3 separate regions of the Homo sapiens genome follow, and all the other regions are linked to region 2. Evidence: fine-mapped expression QTL. A gene starts in region 2. Each other region holds a variant in brackets. All regions are shown on one strand. Distances are between the middles of the regions. Region 1 overlaps PAQR5 (progestin and adipoQ receptor family member 5). Region 2 holds the start of RPLP1 (ribosomal protein lateral stalk subunit P1). Region 3 holds the start of DRAIC (downregulated RNA in cancer, inhibitor of cell invasion and migration).

The links. PIP is the estimated chance that this variant, and not a neighbour inherited with it, causes the effect.
Region 1: its variant is fine-mapped to the expression of RPLP1 in whole blood (INTERVAL, PIP 0.99).
Region 3: its variant is fine-mapped to the expression of RPLP1 in whole blood (INTERVAL, PIP above 0.99).

Annotation. Positions count from the first base shown.
Region 1 is chr15:69,329,316-69,337,493 of GRCh38, reverse strand. PAQR5 (progestin and adipoQ receptor family member 5) reads right to left here. Exons shown (of 9, transcript NM_017705.4): 2 at 1-153. Among named protein-coding and RNA genes, the nearest start is that of PAQR5, 34 kb to the right of the region's middle. The variant C/T (reference allele first, on the strand shown) is at 4,563.
Region 2 is chr15:69,448,779-69,456,930 of GRCh38, reverse strand. RPLP1 (ribosomal protein lateral stalk subunit P1) reads right to left here and starts at 4,113. Exons shown (of 4, transcript NM_001003.3): 1 at 3,911-4,113; 2 at 3,210-3,284; 3 at 1,644-1,761; 4 at 726-1,503. The coding sequence starts at 3,982. The coding sequence ends at 1,424. LINC02896 (long intergenic non-protein coding RNA 2896) reads left to right here. Exons shown (of 3, transcript XR_932420.2): 3 at 1-911. RefSeq lists enhancers at 3,568-3,677, 3,828-4,077, 4,358-4,407 and a silencer at 3,758-3,807.
Region 3 is chr15:69,560,413-69,568,590 of GRCh38, reverse strand. It overlaps DRAIC (downregulated RNA in cancer, inhibitor of cell invasion and migration), which reads right to left and starts at 6,871. Exons shown (of 5, transcript NR_026979.1): 1 at 6,574-6,871; 2 at 5,289-5,475; 3 at 4,787-5,001; 4 at 3,064-3,367. LOC124903517 (a long non-coding RNA gene) reads left to right here and starts at 1,682. Exons shown (of 2, transcript XR_007064696.1): 1 at 1,682-1,980; 2 at 2,301-3,632. The variant G/A (reference allele first, on the strand shown) is at 3,758.

The DNA of each region.
Region 1 (8,178 bases), 120 kb after region 2:
AGGAACCTTGTACAGGAACTCTGTGTGGACAAGGTATGAGGCCAGATTCCCCAAAGGGCTTTAATTGGCTCTAAAAGTCAACTTTCATCTTTAAAGGAAGCATGCCATTCCAGTCAAATCCTTGGTAAAATGCCCAGTTTCTCCAATGGTGTCCTGTGACAAAAGAAAACAGATTCTTATTGCACTTATGTAATTAACTATACTGCCATAAATTGAGAATACACACAAATGGTTTCCAAATTCTAGAGCAATCAGGTAGAGAGAAACAAATATGCTCCAAAATTTTCCACAGGAGTATATTTTACTCACTTGTTAAAGCTTGCAAATAGCTCTAAAGAAATAAGTAATCTTTACTCTGAAAACAAAAGGATTAGCAATGTTTAACATACCAGCTCTCCACGAGAGTCCTAGAAGTTTCCTTTTTTCCTCTATTCCAATAGTACAATTTTTAAAGTTATCTGAGACCTGCACTCAGAGTCTTGTATCTGATTATAAATTGCCTTTTGAAAAGGACCAAAGCAAGACAAAATGTCTGTGGATGACAAAAGTCTATAGCCACTATTAAAGCTACAATTGACTAGGAATTTTGGTTCTTCCACTTCTGTGGCATACAACAATTTTACATAACAATTATAATTATTAATAATGTACACTAAATCATATCAGAATTATAGAAGTTTCCCATAACTTTTGGAACACATACTAATAACATATTTATACAAATACAGTCCAAAGAAAACCAAACACCATTCTCTCTTTCTTTTGAAAGTTTTCTGTCTATTCTAAAGTCACAATCTCCAGAGTTATTAAGCAGAAATCTGCATTTAAGAGCACCTGTTAAATTTTACAGCTGATTATAAAACCAACTTTTAGGAGGACCAAAATAAGACAACAATCATCTGTGGATGACAAAAACATTATAGGGTAGCCACAGTTAAAGACACGATCGACAAAGAGATTTGTTACCTGTGGCACACAGCCATTTAACATAATTATAATTATTACTGATAACATATACAAAGTCATATTAGAATTTTAGGAGTTTTACATAATTTTGGAACATATGCCAATAATACATTTACACAAATATAGCCCAAAGAAAGCCAAACACCATTTCATACTTGACAATGCTTCCTGTATGATTTTTATGTCAAATAAGCCAAATGTCATTTTTGGACTTTAGAGGACCTGATATCTAAAATATTAGGTTAGAAAGAGATATAATTTATAATTTGATTTTGGAAAGTTTGTCAAATATCAAAGGTTTAAAACACTGGATATCACAAAATAGAATCCCAGGTCACCATAAGTCATTCACTTAGCCAAAATGATAACTCCAAAAAATTTTTTTAAAAAAGAAAGCCTTTACTCTGATAGAGGAGACTTAGCTTTCCAAACAAGACTCAATGAAGATAGCATGAAGCCACCTGAATCTGTCTCCTTTCTCTCTCTCCTCCTTTTTTTTCCTGCCACTTACCCAAAGGAGAAAACAAAACCACTTTCATTATCTTTTAACATTACATAAAAATCGTCTTCAAAAGAGAAAACCAAATTTCAGGCTTGCATTAGTGCATCTTTAATGTTAAAGCTAGTTTTTTAAATAAAATTTTATATCTCGATCCAGTTGTAATTAGTCTGACCATAAGGTAAGATTTTTATAAACTTTTTAGAACTCTTTACAAATTTCCATCCAACAGCAGATCAGTTTTCTAAGAAAACCCTGTTATTCGGACACACAGACCCAGATTCTGGCCCCACATCAGTATGATTTTAATGCTTTAACCTAAGGGTGGCATGCATCTGTAATCCCAGCTACTCGGGAGGCTGAGGTAAGGAGAATGGCTTGAACCTGGGAGGCAGAGGTTGCAGTGAGCCAAGATCGTGCCACTGCACACCAGCCTGGGCGACAGAGTGAGACTCTGTCTCAAAAAAAAAAAAAAAAAAAAAAAAACTGGATGCGGTGGCTCACACCTGTAATCCTAGCACTTTGGGAGGCCGAGGCGGGCAGATCACCTGAGGTGGGGAGTTCGAGACCAGCCTGACCAACATGGAGAAACCCCTTCTCTACTACAAATAAAAAATTAGCCAGGTGTGGTGGTTCATGCCTGTAATCCCAGCTACTTGGGCAGCTGAGGCAGGAGAATCACTTGAACCCAGGAGGCAGAGGTTGTGGTGAGCCGAGATCATGCCATTGCACTCCAGCCTGGGCAACAAGAGCAAAACTCCATTTCAAAAAAAAAAAAAAAAGCTAAAATTTCTTTTAAATCTTTTTTTTTTTGAGACATGGTCTCACTCTGTTGCCCATGCTTGAGCACAATCTTGACTCACTACAACCTCCACCTCCTGGGTTCAAACGATTCTCCTGCCTCAGCCTTCTGAGTAGCTGGGATTACAGGCACCTGCCACAGGCCCGGCTAATTTTTGTATTTTTTCAGTAGAGTTGGGGTTTCACCATGTTGGCCAGGCTGGTCTTGAATTCCTGACCTCAAGGGATCCCCACTCCTCAGCCTCCCAAAATGCTGGGATTACAGGCGTGAGCCACCGCGCCCAGCCAATTTCTTTTAAATCTTAGCCAACTTGTTTATACCCACAGAATTTGTTACAAGATCAACCCTTTACAAACCCCTTTCCCTTTGCTTAAACCTTCAGTTTTGTTCCATTACTCTTTTGGGTTAAGACAATCTTTAAAACCCTCTGAAGTAGACAAAATTACATTCCCTTTAACAAAAGCCATATTCCCATGCCTTCTGATCATCTTTTACCAAAAACACATTCCCTACACACCTAGTATGTAAAACGCATTCTCCAGTGGTCTCAACTACATATTACAATGTTAAATCTTAGCAACTTTTATTTTTAGTGAAAAACCTGGTAAGTAAGCGATTTTAATTATGTACTGGGGTGGAGCCTAGGACATCAATCAGAAATGAAGATAAGGTCTGACTCTTAGCATAGCTGGCGGGCATGGCTCTCCACATGTCCCCAGGCCTTACCTATCATCTAATGCTCCAAAGTAGGGAAATTGAACAATTCTCAAAAGTCAAAGAAACAGTTTGACCTTAAAGCATTTAGCAAATCTGATACCTGACCTTATTTTAGACCAAATGTCTACATTTTCAAGACATTTTATTTTACCAATAATCTTTAAAACTGTCTTTATTTCCCAGGTCGGGTGCAGTGGCTCATGCCTGTTATCCCAGCACTTTGGAAGGCCGAGGTGGGTGGATCACGAGGTCAAGAGCTCGAGACCATCCTGGCTAACATGGTGAAACCCCATCTCTACTAAAAATACAAAAAAATTAGCCCGGCGTGGTGGCGGGCGCCTGTAGCCCCAGCAACTTGGGAGGCTGAGGCAGGAGAATCACTTGAACCCGGGAGGTGGAGGTTGCAGTGAGCCAAGACTGCGCCACTGCCTCCAGTCTGGTGAGAGAGTGAGACTCCATCTCAAAGAAAAAACAAAAAAACCGTCTTTATTTCCAAAAGACTACTAAAGTCATGTGAACAAAAAGGTATTACGGTTTCTATTTTTCTGATAAAATATTTGATTTAAATGCTTATATTTCTAAGCCAATTAACCAGAGCTCTTTTATACAAACATCTCACACACACACACACACAACACATATGAATACAGACAGACAGAAGATTCAGCACTTGTAAAATTTTTCATTTGCCAGTTTCTTAATTGGGTGACTGGCTTTAGGGTGGAGCCCTTGGAGGAGCAGGGCCGGGAAAGCATGCATTTCTAGAGCCAAATAAGCAGCAAATAAGCAGCTGAAGGCAAAGACAGATCCCCAAAATTAAGGGTGCCATTTTATACTGGATCCTGGATCCCCAACAGGAGGGAAATACTGTGGGAGAAGACCGTGCAATGCTTCTACCCTGCATTCCATTCAAGGCAACCCAAAGCCAATCAGCCCATTTTGTAATCGGCCCATCTCTCACAGGAGTCTCATCTCCCAGTGCGGGGTGGGGACGCCTCCTTATCTTCCAGGTGGCCGAGAGCATGCGTCTCTGATCCAAGTGTGCAGAGTCAAGTATCCCTCCACAACTACTATTAGCCACTCCCTAAAGTATATTTCCTACCTAGTTATTACACACCAAAGCTCTCTCATAATAAGTAATTTCTGATACCCCTAAAAATCAAAACTGTCAGATAACACAGTGAAAAACAGAACAGAGCCTTTGATTCTGAGAGGGATCTATCCGCTTTTAATTCCTGGGGTTTCATGAGGAAAACAGAGCCTTTTTTCCAAAACGGGGTTCGTGGTGCCTCCTCTGTTTTTCCCAAGGAGTCCCAGGCTACCAGAAGTTATCTTAGGGCCTCTCATGTGTGTATTAAGATTGGCAAGATAAAAAAAAATGGAAAAAAATAATTCAGTCAACTGAGAAGAAAAAACCTTTTCCCAGGAAAAAAACAAGTCCCAAAAAGAGGAAAACATAAAGGCCTTTTAAATATACCTATTGCTTGTTTATCCACTTTTAATTAAGCTGACTTTTAACCATAGCGCTCTTTAAAAAATATCCTTTTAAATTTTTTATTACCCGACTTTAACACTAAG[C/T]GACCAGTATTTTTGGCTTTTAAATTCTACCACAGTTAACTTCCCACATGAAATTAATAAGTTTTAGCTAAGGTTATAACTTAACCATGGACACATTCATGTCTCAAGGAGAAGGTAAGCCGTTTCTTTTTTTTTTTTTTTTTTTTTTTTTTACAAGATTTAGAATCTCCCCCAGGGTAGTTTAGAGAAAGGAAAACTCAAGACAGGAAATCAGAAGCTATCCATGGGTTGGCCGGGGTGGGGGTGGGGTGGGGAACCTCAATAAATGGCAAAGTTTCATAAATAAAACTCAGAAAGGAATCATTCCAGAAGCCAAGACTAAAACTCAGGCTGCCATTGTCAAAAAGCAAAGCCTCAGCTACTGAGTTACAGCATTGAGCAGTTTCTATTCCTCTCCCCAGAAGGAGCCTAGAGAAGCCAATTTCAAGCTTGCACAGGCTTTTAACTGCTCAAGAAAAAATTTTTAGGACTATGACATGAACCCCAAAATTCCTGTCCTCTGGATGGCAGAAACCAAGAGAAAGTATCCCCACATGGTCAAAAGGTTAAGCTCTTAAGGACACAAAGCAAGACAGAGAAATTTCATCCAGTATTGGTTTCAGGAACCTGTAGCAAGGTTTGTAACTGACCAGCCTGCCAAGCTGGCTTGAAAAGCGGGCTTATAGGGGTCCTAAACCCACATTCTATCCTGTGATACCCCTCTCTCCATTACAGAACAAAGAAAAACAAATTCTTAGCACAAAGTACAGCAGATTTGCTACCGCCTAAGACTAGTCTCACAAATCCTTTTTTCTATTAATCAAACCCTTGCAGAGGAGACCAATAGTTTACTGTTTTACCCAGACAGAGAAAGAGAGACCAGAATCTTCGCTGGTAAGAATTTCTCACCCTTTTTGCTGGCATACCCGGTTTCTGGGTTCTCTTTCTCTGCAGCTTCCAGAAGAAAGAGTGGCTTCTCATGACCCTGCTCGCTTGTGCTATAGCTGTGAGGTTCAAGCCACTTACAAGAGAAAAAATAAACCACTTTACTGTTTTATGGAACCATAGGCAAGATTCTCAATTTGCAAGATGCTAACCAACAGGTTGCATGGGGAACCAAATTAACATTTTCCATCCCAGCAAAATATACACAACAGAACAGACATTAGTCACCTCATTCAGCACCCAATATAAGTCTGGTAAAGCTCAAACTTTTTCCCGTTGCTCCCTGTTTCTGATCCACTCCAGGTGGGGAGGGGAGGGATGACCTCCAAATGGTAATTCACAATGGAGTCTCTGGGCAAGGCGAAGACCAGATAGTCACCCCGAGAGACAGGCCTGTTGAGCTTTCTTTAGGGCTTACCAAATGTAACCAGGCAAATAAGGAGGGATCTCTGAGTTAGACCTGCTGGACTTCCATTAGCAACCTCTCCTGAGATCCCTTCCACATACACAGACACACACAAAGACGAGATAGACAGAAGGCCTTCTAAATCAGATCCCTAACCAAGAACTCCAAGAGTATCCCTTCCAAACTATCCTCCTATTCTCCGTCTGAGAAACTGCCTCGAAATCTTCCAGATTGAGGATAAGTCTCTCAAACCAAGACTCTTCTTACTAGTTAGAAAGAGCCAACTGAGACCCCGCAGGAGCTGAACAGACACCCTGCAATGGGGCTACAGACACAAGACACCCCATGGTGGAGTTACAGACACCACACCATAGGGCTACAGAACCAGTGGCGAGAAGGAAGGAGGCATTGGCAGCACCTAGGTTACTCACCAATCCAGACACCCCACAATGGGGCTACAGACAGACACCCCATCATAGGCTATACAGACACCCTGTGATAGGGCTACAGTTAAGGAACGTCGCCCCAGGACTATTTCTCCATTGCAATTAGATCGATGTACACTGGGTTGGCAGTGCCCCACCAGTACAGAGAGTCCCTGAGTCAGCCCCTAGTCCAAGAGAACTAGGTGGCTGCTTGGGCTGGCTTCTGGATCCATCACTGGAGTGGGGCCACCGAACCATGGGCAGGTAGCCACAAGGGCAATCCTGGATGAGCCACCAAATTTGTAAGTGCCCAAGGGGTTCACCTTGCCTGCTGCCTAGACAAAGCCGATTCATCAAGACAGGGGAATTGCAATAGAGAAAGAGTAATTCACGCAGAGCCTGCTGTGTGGGAGACTGGAGTTTTATCATTACTCAAATAAGTCTCCCCAAGCATTCCTGGAGCAGAGTTTTTAAGGATAACTTGGTTGGTGGTTGGGGGGTGGGTAACCAATGAGCCAGGAGTGCTGGTCAGGGATGAAATCATAGGGAGTCGAAGTTGTCTTCTTGCACTGACTCAGTTCCTGGGAGGGGGCCACAAGATCAGAGGAGCCAGTTCATTGATCTGGGTGGTGCCTGCTGATCCACCGAGTGCAGGGTCTGCAAAATATCCCAAGCACTGATCTTAAGAGCAGTCTAGGGAGGGTCAGAATCTTGTGGCCTCCAACTGCATGACTCCTAAACCATAATTTCTAATTCTGTGGCTAATGTTAATCTAGTCCCCAGGCAAGAAGGAGGTCTCCTTTGGGAAAGAGCTGTTACCATTTTTGTTTAAACCATAAACTACAAACCCAGTTTCTCCCAAAGTAAGTTCAGCCTATGCCCAGGAATGAACAAAGACAGCTTGGGGTTAGAAGCAAGATGGAGTCAGTTAAGTTAGATCTCTTTCACGGTCTCAGTCATAATTTTGCACAGGTGGTTTCACTAACATTCCCTGGTGTATTGTAACAAGTACCCTGGACTGCCTAAGCTTGGAGAATGTTCTATGAAGATGGGGAGAGGCACATAGAGCTTGGGATTTTGGGTGACCAAGGTCAGGTCTTCTCTCTACCATCTCCTAGGTATGAATTTGGCTGGGCTTGTTCCAAATGACTTTCATTTTTGTCATCTGTGAAATAAAAACATTAATACCTACCTGGCCAGGGCTATGGGGGAGCTAAAATGAAATAATAATAGATGTGAACAAACTTTATTAGCTACAAAACCCTGAATCAATGCCAGTGGTATTTACCACTATGGCTACTATTATGGCTACTATTACTACAAAGAACACATTCAGGAGAGTGAGCCATCAGCGGCAAAAACTTTTAGGATGATTTAAAAACCGAAAATTGAGGCTGTTTGCAGTGGTTCATTCCTATACTCCTAGCACCTTGGGAGGCCAAGGCAGGCAGATTGCCTGAGCTCAGGAGTTCAAGACCAGCCTGGACAACATGATGAAACCCTGTCTCTACTAAAATACAAAATATTAGCCGGGTGTGGTGGCATACACCTGTAGTCCCAGCCACTCAGGAAACTGAGGCACAAGAATTGCTTGAACCTGGGAGGCAGAGGTTGCAGTGAGCCAAGATTGCACCACTGCACTGGTAACAATCAGACAGAGCGAGGTGACAGAGCAAGGCTCTCTCTCCAAAAAAAAAAAAAAAAAAAAAAAAAGAAAGAAAAAATAAATTTAGGTAAAATATACATATATAATTTACCATCTAGTTCAGTGATTGTCAATACATTTATATTCTTTTTTTTCTCCCCTTCATCCCCCACCTCCTTCCCAGCCTCCGATAACCACCAATCTACTCTCTATATT
Region 2 (8,152 bases):
CGTGTCACGTTTACGTTTTGGGTTTTGGGTAAGGGATGCTCAAGCCATGTATTAAAAACACAAAACTAGCCAGGCATGGTGGCTCATACTTGCAATCTCCCAGCACTTCGGGAGGTCAAGGCGTGCAGATCACTTAACACCAGGAGATTGAGGTTTTCCTACAAAAAATTAGCCAGGCATGGTGGCATGCCTGTAGTCCCAGCTACTTGAGGGTGGCTGAGGTGGGATGACCGATTTGAGCCTGGGAGTTTGAAGCTGCAGTAAGCCATGGCTGCACCACTGCACTCCAGCCTGGGCCACAGCAAAAGAACCCCTCTCAAAAAACTTAAAACATAAAACTCTAATACTGACACCTACATACTCCTACCCATTGTCAACTCCACCTTGCTCAAGGTCCTAAATTGTTCACTATCCCGTCTTTGGTATTTATTACTCTTAGCAGATGCATATATTTAATGTCTTTTTTGAGCTTATGAGAAGCCCCAAGTGTTGCTTTGAACATTCCCAGGCATGTATCCTATGTCCACATGTAGTTTCTCTTGAGTAATGCCTCAAAGTAGAACTGCCATTTTCCCCAAGTAGTTGTAGTAACTTACACAAATGGTCTTTTTCACATTGACACGAGGAGTCCCGGCTAGAAGTCACGCTTTTCATCACTGAATGTCTTCATCTACTAAATGCTAATGGAGGTAAGGATAAGACTCATTCATGTGCCTGGCATGTCATTAGCTGCTCTGAACACACAATACCCACGGTTTATTATATAAATCCAAGCCTGAAAAGTTGAAAATTCCATTCATGGTATTATTAATTGGCAAACAAAAAAAGCTCTTAGTTTTTGGAACACAGGTTTGAATCTTTTTTTTTTTCCACTTTGTGTAACTGGAGACCTTAATAAACTATTAAGTAAACTTTCTGCACTCCTTCAGTGTTACCATAAAACTCCCAAACATTTGGTGAGACATTACATAGCTAAGTCTTGTTTTTTTACAACCTTGGGATGTAGCAGTCAACATTCAGCATACGTCAAAGTTCGTTCTTAGGCAGGGTTGTATAGGGTAAATACCCAGGAGGCTTTCTAAAGCTGGTCTGTATTACCCTCCACCCCCAGTGTAGGGGACACACCTTATAATCATCAAGTTTACACAGGTAACCTGGACAAAGCATCTGCTCTGATCCTTCCTCCTGCCACCCCAGTGCAGTTTTCAACACTGTACCATGAGGTGCCTTCTTGTTAGCATCAGGATTGTCTAAATCTCACATCCGGCAATGGTGGCAGGGAAAATCCAGCCTGTGTCATGGCAGAATAGGCTGAAAGCCAACATTACAAAACAGACCATTTTTGCAGAGCACATTCCAAAACTATGGACAAGACCAACAGCAGTAAAGTTCAGCTTTTTATTGAACATGTTATAAAAGAGGTTTAGTCAAAAAGACCAAAGCCCATGTCATCATCAGACTCCTCGGATTCTTCTTTCTTTGCTTCCACTTTCTTCTCCTCAGCTAGAAAAAAAAAGTCAATCAGGTGTTAGGATTTCCATACTTCATATACTTGTGAAAAATTAATGGCAATTTTGTCTATAATACTATTTTTTAAAAAATCTCTACACTCCTCCCAATACTAAAAACTCCATGTTTCCTACCTGGAGCAGCAGCAGTGGAGGGGGCAGGACCTCCTGCTGGTGCAGCACCAGCTGCTGGAGCAGGTCCACCGGCCCCTACATTGCAGATGAGGCTCCCAATGTTGACGTTGGCCAGGGCCTGCAATACATGTGCATGCATAGGTAAACGCCCAGTTCTGTCCTTGTTAAGCACTCACGCAGCCAAAAACGAAAAGTATCCCCCATTCCAGGTTACAGTGATCAACCCCTAACACTATATACAGTGAGTTCCACATCCATGGATTCAACAGTGGAAAAATAAGCATGTGTACCAAACATGTAGACTTCTAAAGTATACAGGAGGATGTGCATAGGTTATATGCAAATACATTTATATAAGAGATGGAACATCCTGGGATTTTGTTATTAGTGGAAGGTCCTGGAACCAATACCCCAGACACTGGCTTTTCTTTGCTAACAGCCAAGACTTAGGTTACAGGGCAACGCACTACTGTTCAGCTTTGAATCTGATAATTACATTCCTATATGTTAAGAACCTCCTGAGGCAGCTGATTTCCCTCCTTTTACAAATAATATGTTGGTAAAAAAAAAATCCAAACTTCCTGAAACACTCAAATGAATATTCTTTCCACAGTTCCATGTCTCCTCTTAACAGTGAATTCAAATTTTCAGTCTACTAAACAAATATAGGACTTCAAAAGGGGCTTGTTAAATATGACATAGGTACAATGTTTTCAATCTTTCAAAACTCTTTAGAGGTCACAACCCTGGAGTTAGATGCTATTAGCTTCACTTGACAGAGATTAAGTAACCTGTACAATGGAAAATAGCCAGTGCAAGCTCCATGACCAGGAACCTCTTTATTAGTCTTTTATATCCCAACACACAGTACCTACTGTGTCAATGAAGTCCGCTAAACCCAAATGTCCATCAAACCATAGGTTTAATGCAAGAATTTACTGAAAGAATTTGCTTGCGGGCCGGGAGCGGTGGCTCAAGCCTGTAATCTCAGCACTTTGGGAGGCAGAGGCGGGGGGATCACGAGGTCAGGAGATCGAGACCATCCTGGCTAACATGGTGAAACCCCGTCACTACTAAACACACACACAAAAATTAGCCAGGCATGGTGGCGCACGCCTGTAGTCCCAGCTGCTCGGGAGGCTGAGGCAGGATAATGGCGTGAACCCGGGAGGCGGAGCTTGCAGTGAGCTGAGATCGCACCACTGCACTCCAGCCTGGGTGACTCCGTCTCAAGAAAAAAAAAAGAAAAAGAAAAAGAATTTGCTTGCAACTTAACATGCGTAGTACCTATCTCCCGAGTGACCCTTTTTGGGAATAAATGACCTGATTCACATTTTTTTTAACCATGGTTTCAGAGCAAAAGGGAAACCAGAGTCTGATAAGGAAACGTAAGACTTGACAAGCTGAAATCTTATTAGCTCCTAGAGATATACATGCAACGAAAAACACCTAGGAGATCCAGCGGCATGTGGGGCGTTATGGCACCGCTGGGGGTACTTTAGCATGTACAACTGCCCTCGTAAATCAGCAGGCCTTACCACAATCACTTTGCCACCATCACCTTACCTTTGCAAACAAGCCAGGCCAAAAAGGCTCAACATTTACACCGGCTGCTTTAATGAGGGCATTGATCTTATCCTCCTACAACAAATAAAAACGTCAATCCATCAAAACGTAGCGTATGTAATATCTCCAAAATGCTGCACGTCACTCAATAAGTGTACATAACATGTTTAACCAGCTCAAATATTCTATCACAAGCAAAAGAGATGTGTGCCAGGCGCCCTGCAATGAGGCGAGCCCATCACTGCTGTTTCACGGGCTGGGACTTGCCTGAGTCACGCGGCTATTTTTAAGTTACAAGACCTGGGAGGTGGAGCCGAGCTCGGGCGCCTTCCTCCACGACCGGGGGAATTCAAGGCAATTACACCGAAAGAGGTCCGAGTAAGTGTCCCTGAGAGAGACGAGGCACGGGTCAGGGTGCCCAAGCACTGCGGAAGAGCTTTTCTACACGAAGGCTCTTGGAGCCGGAGCGCCCAGCCTCAAGCGCACTCCATGCCCGCTGGGCCCGCACGTGGTCCCGGGGGCCCAGGACCTGCCCGGAGAGAGGCCCCAGCCCCGAGGAGCGCCCGCCCTATGCGGCCTGTGTTCGCGGCCTGGCCCCGGCCGGAAGTGCTCAGTCGAACGGCCTGGAGCCGGGAACCGCATGGAGAGCCGAAAGTCACCGCCCACAGGCAGCCCGGCCGCCGGCCCGCGCCCGCACTCACCGTGACTGTCACCTCATCGTCGTGCAGAATGAGGGCCGAGTAGATGCAGGCGAGCTCGGAGACAGAGGCCATGGCGCGGGCGAGTGTAGGGCTGGCGCTGCCGGACGCGGTGCTAGTCGCCGGATGAAGTGAGGGCCTCACCCCAACGCAGCCTTAGCTTCCTCGGAAGGACCGAGCACCTTGGCGGCAGCTGAGGAAAGGGGCTCTCGCGCCTATACGCAGCCTCTTATGTGTCCACGCGGACCAATCGGCGCCCGCACCGGGCGGAAGAGGCGGACCCAGGACCCACTGAAGGCGCCTGCGCACTGCGCCTGATTGGTTCTTACTGTTGAGAAAGTTTCTCAGCGCCTGCAAATACGGTCCCACTTTATTTGGGTAAATTATAGGACCTGAGAACGTTAAAAACACTTTTAGGTTAGGGTTGCCTAGGTATTCGGACTTCGCCTCCGTTGGTTCCATGAGTTGCTTGACTTGGCAGGAGCTCCGCTGTGGCCCTGGTGACATTGTTCGTAATCTCCTGGTTAGGTCGCGGCCTTCCCAGCCGGCGCTGACCCTGAGAGTAAGGGCTGCGTCCCAGCTTGGAGGCCCCTGCTTAGCGCAGGACCTTGGTTGAGATAGGTAGATGTAGGAGGATGAGAGAAACTAACAGCGTTATGCTAGCAGAAGCCGTAGAGCGCTTACTATGTCCCAGGCACTGAGCCACATTCTGCAAGGATTCACGTAATCCTCACACACCAGGAGTTGGATGTTATCTCCATCTTGCATATGGCAAAATTAAGTCTTAGAGCTGGTAAACTAGCCCAAGATTATGTAGTTACCGCGCAGTGGAGCGTGGATTTGGAATCTAGAAGCCTAACTTAGACCCGGTAGCTAACTCAAGATTGCATAGTTCCGCGCGGTGGAGCGTGGAGTTGGAATCCAGAAGCCTAACTTAGACCTGGTAACTAACCGAAGATTGCATAGTGCCGCGCGGTGAGCGTGGAGGTGGAATCCAGAAGTCTAACTTCACTGCCTAGTGCTTGGGGGAAGGAGGGATTATGGGTAAGCTGTCTACAACCCGTTATTTGTTATCTAAACCCAATTTAAATTCCTACCTTCAAAAATGGTCATCTTTGCATTCCTCGTGGAATTTGCTTAGTTTACCGGAAAGTTAGTTCTATGTATATATATCTTTTTTTTTGGTGGGGGGGGGGCACCTTCTTTGTTTAGTCCATCCCATTATTTAATAATCATCTCTGAAGAAACATTTCTGTTGGAATCCACCGATCTAGAGTCCCACTTGGGTCAATCTTAACTACAAACATAAATATTTTCACATCCGGAATTTTTTAAAAAAGCATTTATAAAGCTATCAAACTTTTAAAAAATAAAGCTGTTGAGTTTTCATCCAAATCTAAGCAGCCATTATAGTGGAATTTTGGTCAAGAAAGGTTAAAGCTATTAAAAAATCCAAACATTTCCAAAGCTACAATGAGTCAGTCCAAAATACTGTTTGTCCAGCAGTGTACATAAAAAACTGATCTGCCGGGTGCGGTGGCTCACGCCTGCAATCCCAACCCTTTGGGAGGCTGAGGCGGGTGGATAGCCTGAGGTCAGCAGTTCGAGACCAGCCTGGCCAACATAGTGAAACCTTGTCTCTATTAAAAATACAAAAAATTTAGCTGGGCGTGGTGGCGGGCACCTGTAATCCCAGCTACTAGGGCGGCTGAAGCAGGAGAATCGCTTGAACCCAGGAGGCGGAGGTTGCATTGCGCTGAGATTGTGCCATTGCACTCCGGCTTGGGCAACAAGAGCAAAACTCCCTCTCAAAAAAACAAAACTGATCTGGTTGACAAGTGGCACTTTGTGGTCATTGAGGAAATAATCTTCTTCTCCATCTATATATTATAGATAATACTTTTTACAGGGTATCAAACAGTAAGCACTAACCACAGCTATTCAAGAGAAGTAGTTAAGCAAAACATCAGTACTCATGCATTTCCTTTTGTGTTGATGAAGGACTTAGTGGATTCAACAGTTACTTCAGACAAATTCCACTGCCCCATATTCTCCTATCGTAGTAAAAATTTCCTATTAATATTTTGAAAATACTATGCAATAAGCCATTAAAAAAAATTTTTTTTTTCTGAGACGGAGTTTCACTCTTGTTCCCCAGGCTGGAGTGCAATGGCACGATCTCGGCTCACTGCAACTTCCACCTCCCAGGTTCAAGCGATTCTCCTGCCACAGCCTCCAGAGTAACTGAGATTATAGGCGTGTGCCACCATGCCCAGCTAATTTTTTGTATTTTTAGTAGAAACAGGGTTTCACCATGTTGGCCAGGCTGGTCTCGAACTCCTAACCTCAGGTGATTCACCCACCTTGGCCTCCCAAAGTGCTGGGATTACAGGGGTGAACCACTGTGCCCGGCTAAATTTTTTTTTTTTAAGTGGGCTGGGGCAGGTCATGGTGGCTCATGCCTGTAATCCAAACACTTTTGGGAGGCCAAGGCGGGAGGATCGCTTGAGCCCAGGAGTTCAAGACCAGCCTGGGGCAACATAGTGAGACCCAGTCTCTATTAATTTTTTGTTTGTTTGTTTTTGAGACAGGGTCTCACTCCATTGCCCAGGCTGGGGCACAGTGGTGCCATCACAACTCACTGCAACCACTGCCTCCCTGCAACCACTGCCTCCCAGGCTCAGGCAATCCTCCCACCTCAGCCTCCCCAGTAGGTGGGACTACAGGTGCGTGCCACCACACCTGGCTAATTTTTAAACTTTTTGTAGGGATGGGATTTCACCATGTTGCTCAGGCTGGTCTTGAACTCCTGACCTCAAGCCATCCTGTTTCAGCCTCTCAAAGTACTGGGATTACAGTTGTGAGCCACCATGCCCGGGCTGTCTCTATTATTTTAAATAATAATTTAAAAAGCAGGCTGGGTGCTGTGGCTCATGCCTGTAATTCTAGCACTTTGGGAGGCCAAGTCGGGAGGATTGCTTGAGGCCAGGAGTTTGAGACCAGACAAGGCCACAGAGCAAGGCCCCATCTCTACAAAAAATAAAAAATTAGCCAGGTGTGCTGGCATTTGCCTGTAGTTGCAGCTACTCAAGAGGCTGAGGTGAGAGGATTGCTTGAGCCTGGGAGGTTGAGACTACAGTGAGCTGTGATCATGTCATTGCACTCCATTTTGGGTGACAGAATGAGACCCCATCTCAAAAAAGAAAGAAAAAAGCCAGCCTAGGCAACATAGCAAGACACCAGCTCTACAAAAATATTTTTAAAAATTTAATTAGCTGGGCATGGTGGTGAGCACCTGTAGTCCCAGCTTCTTGGGAGGCTGAGGCAGGAGGATCACATGAATCCAGGAGTTTGAGGTTATAGTGAGCCATGATTGCACCACTGCATTTCAGCCTGGGCAACAGAGCAAGACCCTGTTTCTAAAAAAAAAACTTTAAGAAGAAAATCAAGAAATAAATTCTGTATCTACTGCAATAGCAATTTAACCTTTAGTGTCCTGAAGCGTTCTAAAAACACACATATAGGCCAGGTGCAGTGGCTCACGCCTGTAATCCCAGTACTTTGGGAAGCTGAGGAGGGCGGATCACCTGAGGAGTTCAAGACCAGCCTGACCAACATGGAGAAACCCCGTCTCTACTAAAAATACAAAATTAGCTGGGCCTGGTGGCTCATGCTTTTAATCCCAGCTACTGGGGAGGCTGAGGCAGGAGAATCGCTTGAACCCAGGAGGCGGAGGTTGCGGTGAGCCGAGATTGCGCCATTGCACTCAAGCCTGGGCAAGAGTGAAAATCCATCCCTCCCCTCAAAAACACACACACACACACATATATGACATTGTTTACTACTATACTGTGAGTGACTAGTGCATTTTGTCTTCTCCCTTAACTTTTGAGTTGGCTTTTGGCAAGGACTGATATCACACTTTTATTATTAATAACAAAAGATTAAACTATCATTTTAGTTAAAAAAAAAAAAAAGTGGCCGGGCACAGTGGCTCACACCTGTAATCCCAGCACTATGGGAGGCCGAGGCAGGTGGCTGAGGTTGGGAGTTCAAAACCAGTCTGACCAACATTAAGAAACCATCTCTACTAAAAATACAAAATTAGCTGGGCGTAGTGGCGCATGCCTGTAATCCCAGCTACTCGGAGGCTAAGGCAGAGGAATTGCCTGAACCCAGGAGACAGAGTTTGCGGTGAGCCAAAATCGTGCCATTGCACTCCAGCCTAGGCAACAAGAGCGAAAC
Region 3 (8,178 bases), 110 kb before region 2:
AGTGTGGACTGGGTTCTCTCATCAGAGAACCACATCCCAGAATTAGCCCAGCACCTGCAGAAAGGCCTTTTCTGAGTGAAGGTCTGAGTTAAGTCCTTGATTCTACTCTGCCTCAGGGTAGAGAACCACCAGCGAAGGGGAAGTTCCTGGGACACCCTGAGAACCTGCCATCAGTCACCGTTTATTAAGCACTTAACTCTGGATGGGGGCTGGCGCTCTGTGATTGCCTGACTTTATCCTCATTACATTCAGCCCATAATGTCAATGTCAGACCATTGGCCCTCCCACCCCGCTTCATCAGAGGAGGGAGCTGTGTCCCAGAAGGCAGGGGGGACTTGCTCAAAGTCACAGAGCTGGTATAAATAAACACAGCATGCCAGTCTTCATTTTTTCTTTTCTTTTTTTTTTTTTTTTTTTGAGACAGGATCTTGCTCTGTCGCCCAGGCTGGAGGGCAGTGGTGCAATCTCAGCTCACTGCAACCTCCGCCTCCCGGGTTCAAACGATTCTGCTGCCTCAGCCTCCCAAGTAGCTGGGACTACAGGTGTGTGCCACCACGCCCAGCTGAATTTTTTATTTTTAGTAGAGTCGGGGTTTCCCTACATTGGCCAGGCTGCTATCCAACTCCTGGCCTCAAGTCATCCACCTGCCTCGGCCTCCCAAAGTGCTGGTGAGAGGTGACAGAGTGCTGGCACTCCTCAGAGCCCTCGCTTGCTCTCGGCACCTCCTCTGCCTGGGCTCCAACTTTGGCGGCACTTGAGGAGCACTTCAGCCCACCGCTGCACTGTGGTAGCCCCTTTCTGGGCTGGCCAAGGCCAGAGCCGGCTCCCTCAGCTTGCAGGGAGGTGTGGAGGGAGAGGCACGAGCAGGAACCCGGGCTGCGCGCGGCGCTTGTGGGCCAGCTGGAGTTCCGGGTGGGCGTGGGCTTGGCGGGCCGCACTCGGAGCAGCCAGCTGGCCCTGCCGGCCCCAGGCAATGAAGGACTTAGCACACGGGCCAGCGGCTGCAGAGGGTGTACTGGGTCCCCCAGCAGTGCCAGCCCACAGGCGCTGTGCTCGATTTCTCACCGGGCCTTAGCTGCCTTCCCGCGGGGCAGGGCTGGGGACCTGCAGCCCGCCATGCCTGAGCCTCCCACCTGCTCCATGGGCTCCTATGCAGCCCGAGCCTCCCCGATGAGTGCCGCCCCCTGCTCCACAGCGCCCAGTCCCATCGATCACCCAAGGGCTGAGGAGTGCGAGCGCACTGCGCGGGACTGGCAGGCAGCTCCACCTGCAGCCCTGGTGCGGGATCCACTGGGTGAAGCCAGCTGGGCTCCTGAGTCTGGTGGGGCGGTGGAGAACCTTTATGTCTAGCTCAGGGATTGTAAATACACCAATCGGCACTCTGTATCTAGCTCAAGGTTTGTAAACACACCAGTCAGCACCCTGTGTCTAGCTCAGGGTTTGTGAATGCACCAATTGACACTCTGTATCTAGCTGCTCTGGTGGGGCCTTGGAGAACCTTTGTGTCCATACTCTGTATCTAACTAATCTGATGGGGATGTGGAGAACCTTTATGTCTAGCTCAGGGATTGTAAACGCACCAATCAGCGCCCTGTCCGCACAGACCACTCGGCTCTACCAATCAGCGGGATGTGGGTGGGGCCAGATAAGAGAATAAAAGCAGGCTGCCCGAGCCAGCAGTGGCAACCCGCTCGGGTCCCCTTCCACACTGTGGAAGCTTTGTTCTTTTGCTCTTTGCAATAAATCTTGCTGCTGCTCACTCTTTGGGTCCACACTGCTTTTATGAGCTGTAACACTCACCACAAAAGTCTGCAGCTTCAGTCCTGAAGCCAGCGAGACCACGAGCCCACCAGGAAGAACAAACAAACTCCAGACACGCCACCTTAAGAGCTGTGACACTCACCACGAGGGTCCGCGGCTTCATTCTTGAAGTCAGTTGAGACCGAGAACCCACCAATTCCGGACACACTGGGATTACAGGTGTGAGCCACTGCGCCCAGCCAAGCATGCCATTCTTTAGAAGATGTTCTCTCCTGGCACATCTCAGTTTCTACAAAGGCCCCCAGCCCTTCCTGGAGACCCCTGGGGCGAAGTTCTCTCACCCTTCTTCACATGCCCATAACAACTCACCTCCCTCTCTCTTAGAGCCCCCGTCCTGCCCTTCCTTGAATTCTGGTCATGCTCATGTTTGCCATAGCTCCCCAAGGAAGACAGCCTCTGAGTCAGGTCTGACATTGTCTGTCCTTAAAGAAGGCACTTAACACATATTTGTCAACTGAATTAATAAAAATTTCCCACAGGGCCTTGGAAGAAATTTTGTACCTGTTTGCCTCTGCTGGATGACGCACTCTGAACACAGCTACCTAAAAGTGGAAGGAAGGAGGCCGGGCAGGGTGGCTCACGCCCATAATCCCAGCACCTTGGGAGACTGAGTCAGGTGGATCACTTGAGCTCAGGAGTTTGAGACCAGCCTAGGCAACATGGCGAAATCCTGTCTCTACAAAAAAAATTTAAAACTTAGGCATGGTGGCACGTGCCTGTAGTCCCAGCTACTCAGGAGTCTGAGGTGGGAGGATTGCTTGAGCCTAGGAGGTGGAGGCTGCAGTGAGCCGAAATCACATCACTGCCCTCCAGCCTGAGCAACAGAGCAAGACCCAATCTCAAAAAAAAAAAAAAAAAAAAAAAGGCTAAAAGGAAGGACTGTTTTGAGCTGAGGCAACCCCAAGGACTGGTGACATTCCCTGGGTCTCCCCTGCCAGCCTCGTGTCATACCCCAAGAGAGGCTGGGACACATCTGTGAAACAGGATGCTGAACAGCGGAACACAGCGGACTTGAGCCAGCCTAAGTGGGTTTCTGCTCCTTGCAACAAGAGGCCTGAATAGAAGCCCCTTCTTCAGGGGAGTGGGCATCAGCTCAGAAAGAGGATCCCATGGGAACTGACTTTGCTGGTGACCAAGGCCCTACCACCAGGGCACCCTGCCCATGTATCCCAAGCAGAGGGAGCAGAACCAGCGGTGTAACTACTGTGCTTGACACCCAGGGCAGGTCTTTTTTTAACTCACCGATCTTCCATGCAACAAAATTGTTTTCTGTGAAAAGCAGGAAATGAATAACAACAGCGTAGGTGCGTTGGCTATGTCCGGTGGCATTTCTTCAGAATTTTCATTAATGACACCTGATTTTGGAGGCATTGTATATTTTTAAATACATCCAGATGTTGTTTCAGTTGCTTCCTCTTTGGTTCTTTTTGCTTTTCGTTGTTGAGCGTCACTTAAATTCGTGTCATTTCATGTTGGTACAGGTACTCCACTTCAAATTTCCCAAGAAATTCAGAAGAATTGTGAACAAGTTGCTGGTTTCACAATACTGCAAGACACTGCAAGTTATTCCAAGTTCCTACAGGACAACGATGCACAATTATTTACTTACTTATGTTTAAATATACCTATCAGTTTGACTTTCATCCTTTGGTGACATTCTAATAATTTATGTAAATAATTATTCAGAGACCAATGAGAGGATTTTAATAAGTGCAAAATGTTAGCAGACGGTACAACATTGATAAATCTATGGTCTGTATTTTGTTCTGCCATTTCAAAATAATTAAAAAGTAAGTTTCAATTTAAAAACATTATTGAAATTCAGTAAAATATTTCAAGCATGAACTAAAATATACACTTACTAAACACAAATATTACACCTCACATTTCATACTCTGTTTCATTGTTTTAAATTTTAAACAGAAATAACTCCACC[G/A]GCCACCTAGAATGATCAAATCAGGCAACTCAAGTTACTTTGTTTCATCTTCACAATCACTGTGCTATCATTGTTCATTTTGAATCTACTTTTTAAAAGCAAGAATATTTGATACCAGATACCAGACACAAATTATACCTGAAAAGGATGTCATTTTAGGATTTGTGTCCCACCTAAAGGATACAATTCTGTACCCTGACAATGTTATTCTAGAAATAAATGCCTATGAGTGAGTCTTGTTTCAAGAGCCAACTCTACAACTAGGAGTTCCCCCAAAGTAACTTCCATGTGCAATAAAGTTTTTATTAAAGGATAAGTATTAAAATTGTCCTAAGCAGAAAACCAAACACTGCATGTTCTCACTCATAGGTGGGAATTGAACAATGAGAACACTTGGACACAGGGTGGGGAACATCACACACCAGGGCCTGTCGTGGGGTGGGGGTAGCGGGGAGGGATAGCATTGGGAGATATACCTAATGTAAATGACGAGTTAATGGGTGCAGCACACCAACATGGCACATGAATACATATGTAACAAACCTGCACGTTGTGCACATGTACCCTAGAACTTAAAGTATAATTAAAAAAATAAATAAATAAAAATTTTTAAAAATCTAAAAAAAAAAATTAAATTAAATTAGATAAATAAAATTGTCCTAAGGCCAGGAATGGTAGCTTACACCTGTAATCCCAGCACTTCCGGAGGCAGTGAATTGCTTGAGCCCAGGAGTTTGAGACCAGCCTGGGCAACATGGTGAAACCCTGCCTCTATAAAAAAATACAAAAATTAGCCAAGTATGGCGGCACGCACCTGTAGTCCCAGCTACTCGGTAGACTGAGGTGAGAGGATCGCTTAAGCCTGGGAGGTCGAGGCTGCTGTGAGCCATGATGGTGCCACTGCACTCCAGCTTGGGTGACAGAGTGAGACTCTGTCTCAAAAAAACAAAAACAAAAACTGTCCTAATGTGAAGCTTATATACTTATCATCATCATCAATATCATCAGCATTATGAAGCTCCACAGTACCTCAGCAAGTGTTTACACATTGGGCCAAGGACAGATTTTTCCTGGAGAAAGATTTTACCACTGCCACCATCTTGAAATTCTTCATCGTTTTGGAACACAGAGCCATAGATTTTCATTTCTGCACTCAGCTCTGTTCTGAGACCGGGGCCATAGGGGTTCTTGGAGAGACAGGGCAGATGGAAGAAGTGGAAGGCATCTGCACACTGTAGAGTGCCCTGCAATCATAGAGGGTGATTACTCCTGTCCCTACCTCCCTGGCCCAGCTTCCCACCAGCCAGAACCCTGGCAAAACAGGGAGACCTTTGGCAGTCTCTTAGCCCTCTTCCTTACTAATCCCTGTTCCCTCCTCTCCCCTTATGCCAAATACAACTAGAGGTCACCTCACAGCCAAGCGCCCCTCCCAAAGACACCAACTTCCTTTACCCTGCAACAACCAACCCTCACCCCACTCCCAAAAGGCTCTCTGGCCAGAGGTCTGATCGAGCCCCTTGAGGGTACTCACTTTAAGCCACCCCCATTGCCTGAGTTGTTTTCCTTTTTTACAAATGAAGCTTGTTCTTTTCTGGGTCTCTCCAAGGTGGAGTGTAGGAGGGCAGTGTTTTCCGTAGCCTCTGGCTCGTGCCGCGCTCTCAGACTCTTCAGTTCTCCTCACCCACACGAGCCCAATGAGGTAGGCCTTTTTATTCCATCTTGCAGACAAAGAAACGATTACTCAGGGTTGATAAACACCACCCAAGATCTCATGGGAGGAAGGAACAGAGATGAAAATAAAATGCAAGGCTGTGTAAGTCCAACAAATATGCCACATCCATGTCACCTCTGGGGTCTGATCCAGCCTCTCAACAACCACCGTCACCCCTCAACAGGCAGGTGACAGTGGCGAGATGGCCCAGCCCAGCAACAGGCTCCCCCATTGCAGTGCCATTGCTATGCCAGAGGACACAAACCCCAGACCTTGACTCCTCCTCACAGACCCTGAACAGCTAGAATCTTCTGGCTTCACTGATACTTCCAGCTGCCTGAGCTTTGGCCCGGACAGTCGCCACAGCAAACACAGGTAGGTCTCTGCAGCTGCAGCTGAATGAGCCAGCAAATATTTATCAAGCACTGTGCTAGGAACAGTAGGAGATGGAGTGACTTTACTCAGTGGTCCAGTTTTAAAACACTTTTAGTAATAAATACCCTTAAAAAAAAGAAGGGGAGAGAACATATTTTAAAACCCTATTGCTTTCTTTCCCATCCTGAAAGCCATGAGGTAGACAAAATAGTATCGCTTTACAAGCACAGACTTTGGAGCCAGAGACTTTTGGGTTTGAATTCTGGCAGTGCTGCCACTAGCTACGTGACACTGTGCAAGCCACACTCCTCTCAAAGCCTTAGTTTCCCCTTTACAACACGAGAATGCTTACCCCTGCCCACCTCAGAGGATTCTTTAAAAATGAAATGAGCTAATGTATAACAAAGAGCTTTGTTGACTGTGCAAATGTTAGGTTGTTCTTTCAATAAACATTTATTAAGCATTTACTCTGAGCCAAACCCTGAGTTAGGCATTAGAGCTTCTGAAATGTAAACGACCCGGGTTCATTGGGATTCACCCTTTTTATTTTTTTTTTTTCGATGAAATTCACACAACATAAAATTAACCATTTTAAAGTGAACGATTCTTTGGCATTTAGTCCATTCACGATGCTGCACAACCAACACCTCTCACAAGTTCTAAAACATTTTTTTCCTCATCCCAAAAGAAAAGCCCGTACCCACTGAACATCAGCCTCTTTTGAAGATACCTTTTCTCTCGCTCTGCTGCGTCCTTCTCAGGAGTTGAGTTCACGGGCTTCATAATATCCTAATGTCCCTCTCATCGCCTATGACTCCAAGCCAATTCCCACATCCAACCTCAAGCTTCACAAGTCGAAACCCAGGTTTCTCTGCCAGAGCCGGGGGAAACAGAGCCCCTAGCCTGCCATTTTTAATTACATCAGGGCTGGGTGAGCAGGTAATCGCTGTGCATTTCAGTAAATTACCTCTCATAAAGGGGCCATCATGTTTGCTCATGTGCCCTTCTTTCCTGGAACCAGCTCCCTGTTTGCCAACATTGTATCTTCCCAGCAGCCCATGCGCCTGGTGATCGTCCTTTTAGTCAAGCTGGGGGACAGTCAGGTGCAGGGGGAGGAGGCAGTGTTTGGGCAAATATTGGACTTGGCCACACTTGCTGTTCGTATCAGGAACCCAATTGGTGTTATTGATTGACAGATTCGGGGACCAACTGTTTAGAAAGCTGAGCCCCCTCGGATTGGGCTAGGTGTTTCAACAAACAGCCCTAATGCTGGGCAAACAGGGCTGTTGGAAGAAGTGCCCAGCGTGTTAGCAGAGCAAACCAAGCACTGAGCAAACAGCTTAAAAGAATGTGGCCACCTCCACGTAACCTCAACCGAGGTATTGATCCCACCGGAGGAAAGAGAGGGGCCGAGTGGGGAACAGAGAGATACAAACCCCGGCAGAATGTAAATGTTATCTTTAAGCTGCGGCTGTCACGGCCCTAATGGGCATCTGTTTGGAATTTGTCTTCTTGCAAATCTTTAAATCCAGGTCAGGGCCAGGCACAGAATTTAATAACAACTTTTCAGAGAGATCGGGGCTTGGGACTGATTTCATTCCCCATAAGCCCAACTGGGACTCTTCTGTTCTTCTTAAAGGCAGCTGCCTTGCATGGAAACTTGCTGGGTGCAAGTCCCAAGCTAGAAAGAGATAAATCTTCTGAACACTGGTCATAAGGCTACAGGAGAGAAGAAGGAAATTCAGAAATAAAGGTGCTTTCTCTGACCCCTGAGCTGTCCATACAAGAGAGCTGGTGGAGTGGAAAGAATCCTGGACTCAGAATCAAGAAATCTGGGTCCTGCTGCAGCTGCTGGCTCTGACTGGCTGCCCCTTCTGTCTTCACCTCCCTGACCTTCAACCTCTGTATCTATGAACTGAGGGATGCAGTCCCTGCTGGGCATATTCAGGGTCAGGCCAGACAAGCCCATTCCAAGGTGGGAGCACACTCTGCAGACAGAAAACACTGTCCCAGTTTAAGGAATCGGGATATTTGCTGAGAGACCCTGGGAGATGCCCCTCCTGAGCCTGAGACCTTCTGACATCACCAAGTCGCAATGGAATGGACCATGGCTGTGGTTATCTATTTTTCTAGGTAGGTGACTGTTGGAATTTGGGTGTCCTTTCCCAAAAGCTAGATGGGCAAAGGGAATACATGTTGTTTGCAAATTCCTTGAAAAGTCAAAAAATCATGATTGCTTACTTGCTGTTATTTTTGAGACAGGGTCTCACTCTGTTACCCAGTCTAACAGAATCGTGCTCTGTCACACAGGCTGGAGTGCAGTGGGACGATCATA